Linked DNA regions of Homo sapiens. The protein of the gene in region 1 purifies or fractionates together with the protein of each later gene. This does not show direct contact. Each region holds a gene or a part of one and is shown in the gene's direction. Other genes may lie near its edges.

Region 1 (3,827 bases):
AAATAGTGGGGAAGAAGGTCCTGCTCTCACGATTCCCCCAAATTCTCAACAAGCTAACCACCACATACACACATACATGCACAATCACTCTTCCTGTCTACACAGCTAACCTCTTTCCTACCCAGAGTATTTGCTACACATTTGTAATGCCTTTCCCTCTATTCTTTTTTTTTTTTTTTTTTTTACAGTCTGGCTCTGTTGCCCGGGCTGGAGTGCAATGCTGAGATCTCAGCTCACTGCCACCTCCTCCTTCTGGGTTCAAGCGATTCTCCTGCCTCAGCCTCCCAAGTAGCTGGGATTACAGGCACGTGTCACCACGCCCAGCTAATTTTTGTATTTTTGTAGAGACGCGGTTTCGCCATGTTGGCCAGGCTGATCTCAAATTCCTGACCTCATGATTTGCCCACCTCAGCCTCCCAAAGTTCCGGGATTAGTCTTGAGCCACCATGCCTGGCCCTTTCCCTCTATTCTTGTCCAAAACTGAATTATTTAAAGAAATTCTCACTATGACCCAGAAGGTGGGATTTTACTTACATGAAAAAGGTGGTGGGTGGAAAAAGTAGGGGGTGTAATTCTTTAACTTCTTACTCATAAAGGAAAAATAATACTGATATATTTGGTAAACATTCCCTAAATCCTTGTGGTATAACTGAAGGAAAGACGGCATTACAACCCCTTGGTCTTAGAAAGTGAGAATATCCAAAGAACCAGAGACTCTCAAAATCCAATTTACTCTAATTCCTACTCTTCCATTCGCCATGTTTTCTACCGGTATTTGTGTAAAGTAATAAGGATTGGTTTCAAAAGAAAAATATATTTAACAAAAAAACAAAAAACAAAAGGAAAAGGCTAGGCATGGTGGCTCATGCCTATCATCCTGGCACTTTGGGAGGCCAAGGCAGGAGGATTACTTGAGCTCAGGAGTTTAAGACAAGCCTGGGCAACATAGTGAGACCCCCATCTCTATTTTTTAAAAAAGGAAGCCAGATGCAGTGGCTCACATCTGTAATCCCAGCACTTTGGGAGGCTAAGGTGGGCGGATCACTTGAGCTCAGGAGTTCAAGACCAGCCTGGCCAACATGGTGAAACTCTGTCTCTACCAAAAATACAAAAATTAGCCGGGCTTGGTGGTGCACACCTGTAATCCCAGCTACTTGGGAGGAGAATCACTTGAACCCAGCAGGCAGAGGTTGCAGTGAGCCGAGATCACGGTACTGCACTCCAGCCTGGGTGACACAGTGAAACTTAGTCTCAAAAAAAAAAAAAAAAGGAAAATATCTTACATTTTAAAAAGCTAATTGTATAGATAGGTATATTTTTGAACAACTTTTAAGTGAACACATTAAGTATAATAGTATTTTGTGCTAGAATGCTTTTTATTTAAGGGAAAAAAACCTTTGATATGATCCCAAAGTATAGTAGGTTTACACATAAAATAATCTTTCACTAAAAATGATAGGGAATTTGCTGAAGCCCTTTGAATGGGAATCCAGTTAGATTTTTCATATGATTTTTCTGAATGTCATGATCCCATGCCATGTCTTGTAAACCAAAATCATATAGATTTGTCGAAAGCACATGAAAATTCAGCTTGGGTTTGTCCCCTTTACTTTTTTCTGTGGTAATTTTTAAAGAAAATAAAGTACTAGTAGTTTTCTATTTTGTTGCTTTATTCTATTTCTCCTTGTGTGTAACTTTAAATCATATTTTGCTTTTAAAGCAATGAAGCATTAAGATGCAGACAAAGGATAGATGATGCAGGTGGGAGCAAAATTATCAAATACTATGTTGATTCTCCCAAATAACTTATGCTCTTCTTCATTCTGCCCAAGCACTCAAGTCATTTGCATAATAAACCAAAATGGTGGCCTCTCAGGTAGCCCGTATGTACTGGAGCAATATCCTACGCCCAATGGGCATTGAAGGAAGTTTTGTACCAATAAGACTCAAAATTATTCTTATTTTCATTCAGTTCTTTCCTCAGCAATCTGGAACACCGGGTATGGCTAGTTTGAGCCTTGAGGTATGTATTGTCAGAATTTTTAACATATTAACTTTACATTGGTATATTTGTGGTACAGGAGAAATATAATCGTGTGCTTCTCAGTTTTCCTAGCCAGAAGTTTGTGGCTGTTATCCTGAGGAGTGCTAGAAAAGTTATGACATTTACTAGAGCTTTGTCTTATAATTCTACTGCAGTTTTAAACTCTCAGGTGTTTTAAGTTTTAGAACATTGTTTCTATGCAAACCAAAGCAATATTAGTATTTAATGCCTTATATATAATATGCACATTAATAAAATTACTACCTTAATTAAAATACATTGCTCCATACTCACAAATAGTTTATTTTTAATCCTGCTCCTTATACTATCTTACATGATAAAGTTCTCATGAAAAATTTTGTACCTGTACAAAATTTAATTTTTTATAAGTCTGGTAAATAACATTAACATTGTACTATGATACTTCCTGCATAAGTTGTACAGTGTATTTGTCTTATTGCAGTTCTCATGTAATATATATTCTGTTTAGAAAACTCCAGCAAAACAGAAATTTTGGTCATGTCAATGAAAAATATTGACAGTTATATATAGAAAGATATTTATAAGATTATAAATTTTTCACAAGGTCTTGTGAAATTTCCATGTGTCATGGTAAGCTGGGGGCAGTCAATACCTATTTGAGCTAGACGCTTATTTCACATGGAAGCTAATTTCGCTGAGGGTTTTTTTCTCACTTTTTAGCTTAAACTCAATCCAAAGCATTCTAAATCTCTTCCCGTGAAAAAAGTTAAATTGGCATTCTGTTGAAATGGTAGCATTCTCGATAATCTATCCAGATACTTAACATTTCTTTCAATAGTTTTTATTTTTAATATTTTGAAAGATTTATTTTATGGGAAAGAGGTAGAAGTTTTATTTGTTTGTCTTGTTTGTTTGTTTCAAATTCCTCTTCTGGCTGAACTTGTAAAGGGCAAAGTAAATTAAATGGGGAGAAAGAGTCAATGAAGCAAAGTCCTCACAATTACACTTATATTTCAATGGAATGAGCTATTTTCCCATGTTTCAATGTAACCTCCACTTAAATAATACTTTTTCTCCTTTAATTAATGATAAAAGCAACTGCATTATTTTAATAGCAATAATAATAACAATGGCAGAACCAAATTTAATATTTCCACCTTTCAGTGATGATTTGTGTCTACTTTCATTTTATTAAATTGATTCACACCAAACTTTGTGTTGATAATGTCAAATATCATGAGAAATCAGTTGTGTCAAACACAGCATATGCGATAAACAGTAACCCACTTTTTTTTCTTGATAGACAATGAGACAGTTGGGAAGTCTGCAGAGATTAAACACACTTTCTCAGGTAATCATATTTCTTATTGCAAGTATTCATGGTGGTGGTAGTGTTAATATTAGCAGCAGCATTATAATTCATCAAATTTATTTATGAATAGACAATATACTAAAGATTGGAAGAACCAAGAAGTAAATGAGAGCCTAAAACAAAATAAGATACAGTGACAGGGAAAAACAAAAACAATATTGAATTTTATTGAGTTAAGAAAAGAATCTTTTCCTGCATTATTAATTTTATTATGTGGCACAAAACACAAGTGCTTAAAAAGCTAAATCTCAAACAATTTATGCAAATATTGCAGACTAGCTCAAAACGAAATTTAAGTTCATTGAAAGGAAGAGTTCACCTACCCATTTGATTTACTTATTTTATTTTTATTTATTTATTTATTTATTTAGACAGAGTGTCGCTCTGTTGCCCAGGCTGAAGTGCAATGGCATGATCTCGGCTCACTGC
Region 2 (3,827 bases), on another chromosome or scaffold:
CTGAGAATGATGCACCTGTGCATGTTGTTACATCCTTACAGTGGCTACCACAACTTCACATGTTATTCAGTACTGTTATGTTGGTGAATGTCACAAAACTAAGTTAAACTGTCTGAGGCAAAAAAGGAAGGTTATTGAAATACATAGTTGAGGCTGGGTGTGGTGGCTCATGCCTATAAATCTCAGCACTTTGGGAGTCTGAGGTGAGCGGATTGCTTGAGCCTAGGAGTTTGAGACCAGCCTGGGCAACATAGTGAGACTCCATCTCTACAAAAAATACAAAAAATTAGCCAGGAATGGTGGTGTGCCCTTGTGGTCCCAGCTACTTGGGAGGCTGAGGTGAGATGATCGCTTGAGCCCAGGAGGTCGAGGCTACAGTGAGCTGTGATCATGCCACTGCACTCCAGCCTCAGCGACAGAGTGAGACCCTGTCTCAAAGAAAATAAATACATAGTTGAAAAGATACAGATAATTAGGTTGATCCATTTGAGATTGATTTTTTTTCCTATGCAGAAATAGTCAAATATTGGCAATTTCATTTGGTTCAACCTAATATAAAATGGAGGCTCAAACTATGTCAGGCCAATCTTGTCTTTTTTCCGTCTCCTGGCTCTGAGATGACTCCATTCTTAAACATGTTCTCCTTTGATGTAAAGCGGCTGTCAGTGGCTCTGGAGCCACCTCCTATCAGATCACATCCACTGGGAAAGAAAAAGAGTTTTTATCTTAGCTATTCCCAGCAAAAGTTTCAGTTGCATCTCAGGGTCTCTACTTAGGTCATAAACTCATTGGAGAACCAACCACTGAATCCCGGGTCATGATGTGTTCCCATGGCTTAGGCTTGGGCTGTATACTCAGTCTTTGAGATCATGTATGAAGGGGTGGAGTCCAGAGAGAAATGGGGGTAATTATTGGGAGAATGGTGAACAGAGGCTGGGATGCAAAAATAACAGGTGTTCAGTATACCTTATCAGATAAAATTGACTGACGATGTTATTTTCATTTTGTATGTGAAGACACACTTGAAAAAGCTACAGAAATTTCTCAAGAGCTGGCAGCCCTGGGGTAACTTACAGAATTGAAAGGAATAAAGTATTGGAAACATTAAGAAAAAAGACATGGTGATCTGTGCCCATGTGACCATGTTGCAACTTTAAGTTTAGAAGGAGAACAGGAGAAAGAAGGACTTTTAGAAGGTTTATTTGGATCCTAAAGTTTTCTTATTTGGAGCAGAGCTTTGTGATAGACAGGAAAGTTCTGGAAAATGAGCTGAGCGATCAGACTACAGGATCCCTTAAGTCTGGTGCAGTATTTCATTTTTCTGTGAATCTTAGGCTCCTACTCCTTTTCCAATTTACTTCACTCCAATGTTTATGTTCCTAAGAGTTTGTCTGTTTTCCAAGCACTAGTCCTTTGCTATAAGGATGGGGTAGAGAGAAAGAAGCTTAAAGAGTTTGCAGACAGGTTAAGATGCTTCTGTGGAGACAGAACACATCTTGGTGCACATCTGAGTGTCCTTAGCACTTCATCTATGGACTTCTTTCATAAATGGTAGAACACGTATCCATCACACCTTATTGGATTAATTCAGAAATGCCAGATATATGTACTCTTTGCTGATGGTTACTTTGTTGGTCTCTAATTTAAGTCTTATCTCTAATCACATTAGCTGAGAAAATGGAGACATTATCATTCTAAAAATAAGATGGTTAACTTTTATATTAGGACACTTCTGATTTAGGATAGCACTGAAATTCAGTGCAAAGAAATGTAAGTCTTTCCTAGATAATGACAGATTAGACAATTTGAAGTTTCACTTTTGGTCATTAGCCCTCAGGTCATGCCTGACCTCAAGGTTACTGGAAACAGTGAGAAATGAATGAAAGGAGGAAATGTAATTACCATTCTGTGCATTGAATAGTTGAGCCACTGTTACCATGGATACAATGGCGCATTTATTGTCCAGATCTTGAGATCCAAGTTTGTAAGCAATATCCAAGGTCTCCTTTAAATTTATGTACTATCAGCGAATAACACATGAAGATTCCTGGTAACTTTGAAAATAAGTCTTTCCTCACTGATCTACTGATTCACATTAAGTAAGAGCATGTGTACTTTTGAAGGTGTTGAGGAAACCTGAAAAAGACGAAAAGGAAAGTAGCTACACTTCTGTTATGCTGGACATTCTTGGATTCCTCTATAAAAATATTCTGTCTTATACTGTCAGTGATTTGCTTGTCACTTTGGGCCCAGTTCTTTGGTTTTTATGTCATTAACAAGGAGAAAATTTCCTGAGTAAAGGTTGAAAAAATCAAAATCGTTTATTTTTATTTTTTGAGACAAGGTCTTACTTTATCACCCAGGCCAGAGAGGGTCTCACTTTATCACTCAGGCTGGAGTGCATGGCTCCCTGCAGCCTCAACTTCCCAGGCTGAAGAGATCCTCTCCGCTTAACCCCACAAGAAGCTGGGACTACAGACACATACCAGCACTCACAGTTAATTTTTATATTTTTTGTAGAGATGAGGTTTCTCCATGTTGTTCAGGCTGGCCTCAAACCCCTGAGCTCAAGTGATCCTCCCGCCTCAGCTTCCCAAAGTGCTGGGATTATAGGCGCTAGCCACCATGCCCGGCTGAAATCATTTATTTTGTCAGGAAATTCTTAAAGTTGAATTTAAGAATGAAAGTATTTTATCAGAAATATGGCAATCCTACCCACATTTTAATCTCACTAGAAGGGGGGTGATACATGCTAGCATGTACTTCCACACTGGTTTAATTTTGATGTGGGGAAGGGTGTGGAGAATACTTTTTGTTGCAAGAAACAGAAAACCCAACTCAAAATGGCCTACACAATAAAGGGTATTTCTTGGCTTATGTGAGTAAAAAATACTGAGGCAGAGTGGGGTTCAGGCGAGGTGCAGTCAGGGCTCCAGTTCTCTTTCTTTGTGTTTTCCTTGACCCTACTCCCCCCTAAGTTTCACCTTTGTGTGCGGTCTGGCTTCCCATATGATTCTGATATGGCTGCCAGGGCAAATGGGGCTACGTGTTTCCTTGATCCTATCCAGGGGGAATCCAACTTTGAGAAGGTTTTAGTTATGTTCTCAAAAGTATTATTTCATCACAATAACTTACAGATTGTTAGAATTTCTAAGGACCCTAGACAAAGTCAGCTAGCTCCCCAAACTTGACATATCATCAAAATCACCTGAGGAACTTAAAAAAGTATAGAGATTCTTAAATCAAAACTCACCCTTACTAAAGCAGGGGTATGAAAATCTGTGTTTTTTAAAAATTTTATTTTATTTTACTTTCAGTTCTGGGATACATATGCAGAATGTGCAGGTTTGTTACATAGGTATACATGTGCCATGGTGGTTTGCTGTACCTATCAACCTTTCATCTAGGTTTTAAGGCTCACATGCATTAGGTATTTGTCCTAATGCTCTCCCTTCCCTTGGCCCCCACCCCCTGACAGGCCCCGGTGTGTGATGTTCCCCTCTCTGTGTGTGATGTTCCCCCCCCTGTGACCATGTGTTCTCATTGTTCATCTCCCACTTATGAGTGAGAACATGCGGTGTTTGGTTTTCTGTTCCTATGTTAGTTTGCTGAGAATGATGGCTTCCAGCGTCATTCATGTCCCTGCAAATGACATGAACTCATTCCTTTTTATGGCTGCATATTATTCCATGGTGCATATGTGCCACAACCAACCCAAATGCCCATCAGTGATAGACTAGATAAAGAAAATGTGGAAAATCTGTATTTTTAAAAGTTTCAAGGTGATTCTGAGGGCTGGACCAATTTTTGGGAACGTGTGATCTAGG

The links.
Region 2: the proteins of AMBN (region 1) and LRP2 purify together in Homo sapiens (affinity purification with mass spectrometry; 2 studies listed by BioGRID and IntAct, with this or other methods). This does not show direct contact.

What each region holds. Positions count from the first base shown.
Region 1 is NC_000004.12:70,595,027-70,598,853, forward strand, and holds part of AMBN (ameloblastin precursor), read left to right. Parts: intron 1-1,972; coding exon 1,973-2,023; intron 2,024-3,329; coding exon 3,330-3,377; intron 3,378-3,827. UniProt on the Homo sapiens protein: Involved in the mineralization and structural organization of enamel.
Region 2 is NC_000002.12:169,352,517-169,356,343, reverse strand, and holds part of LRP2 (low-density lipoprotein receptor-related protein 2 precursor), read left to right. Parts: intron 1-3,827. UniProt on the Homo sapiens protein: Multiligand endocytic receptor. Acts together with CUBN to mediate endocytosis of high-density lipoproteins. Mediates receptor-mediated uptake of polybasic drugs such as aprotinin, aminoglycosides and polymyxin B.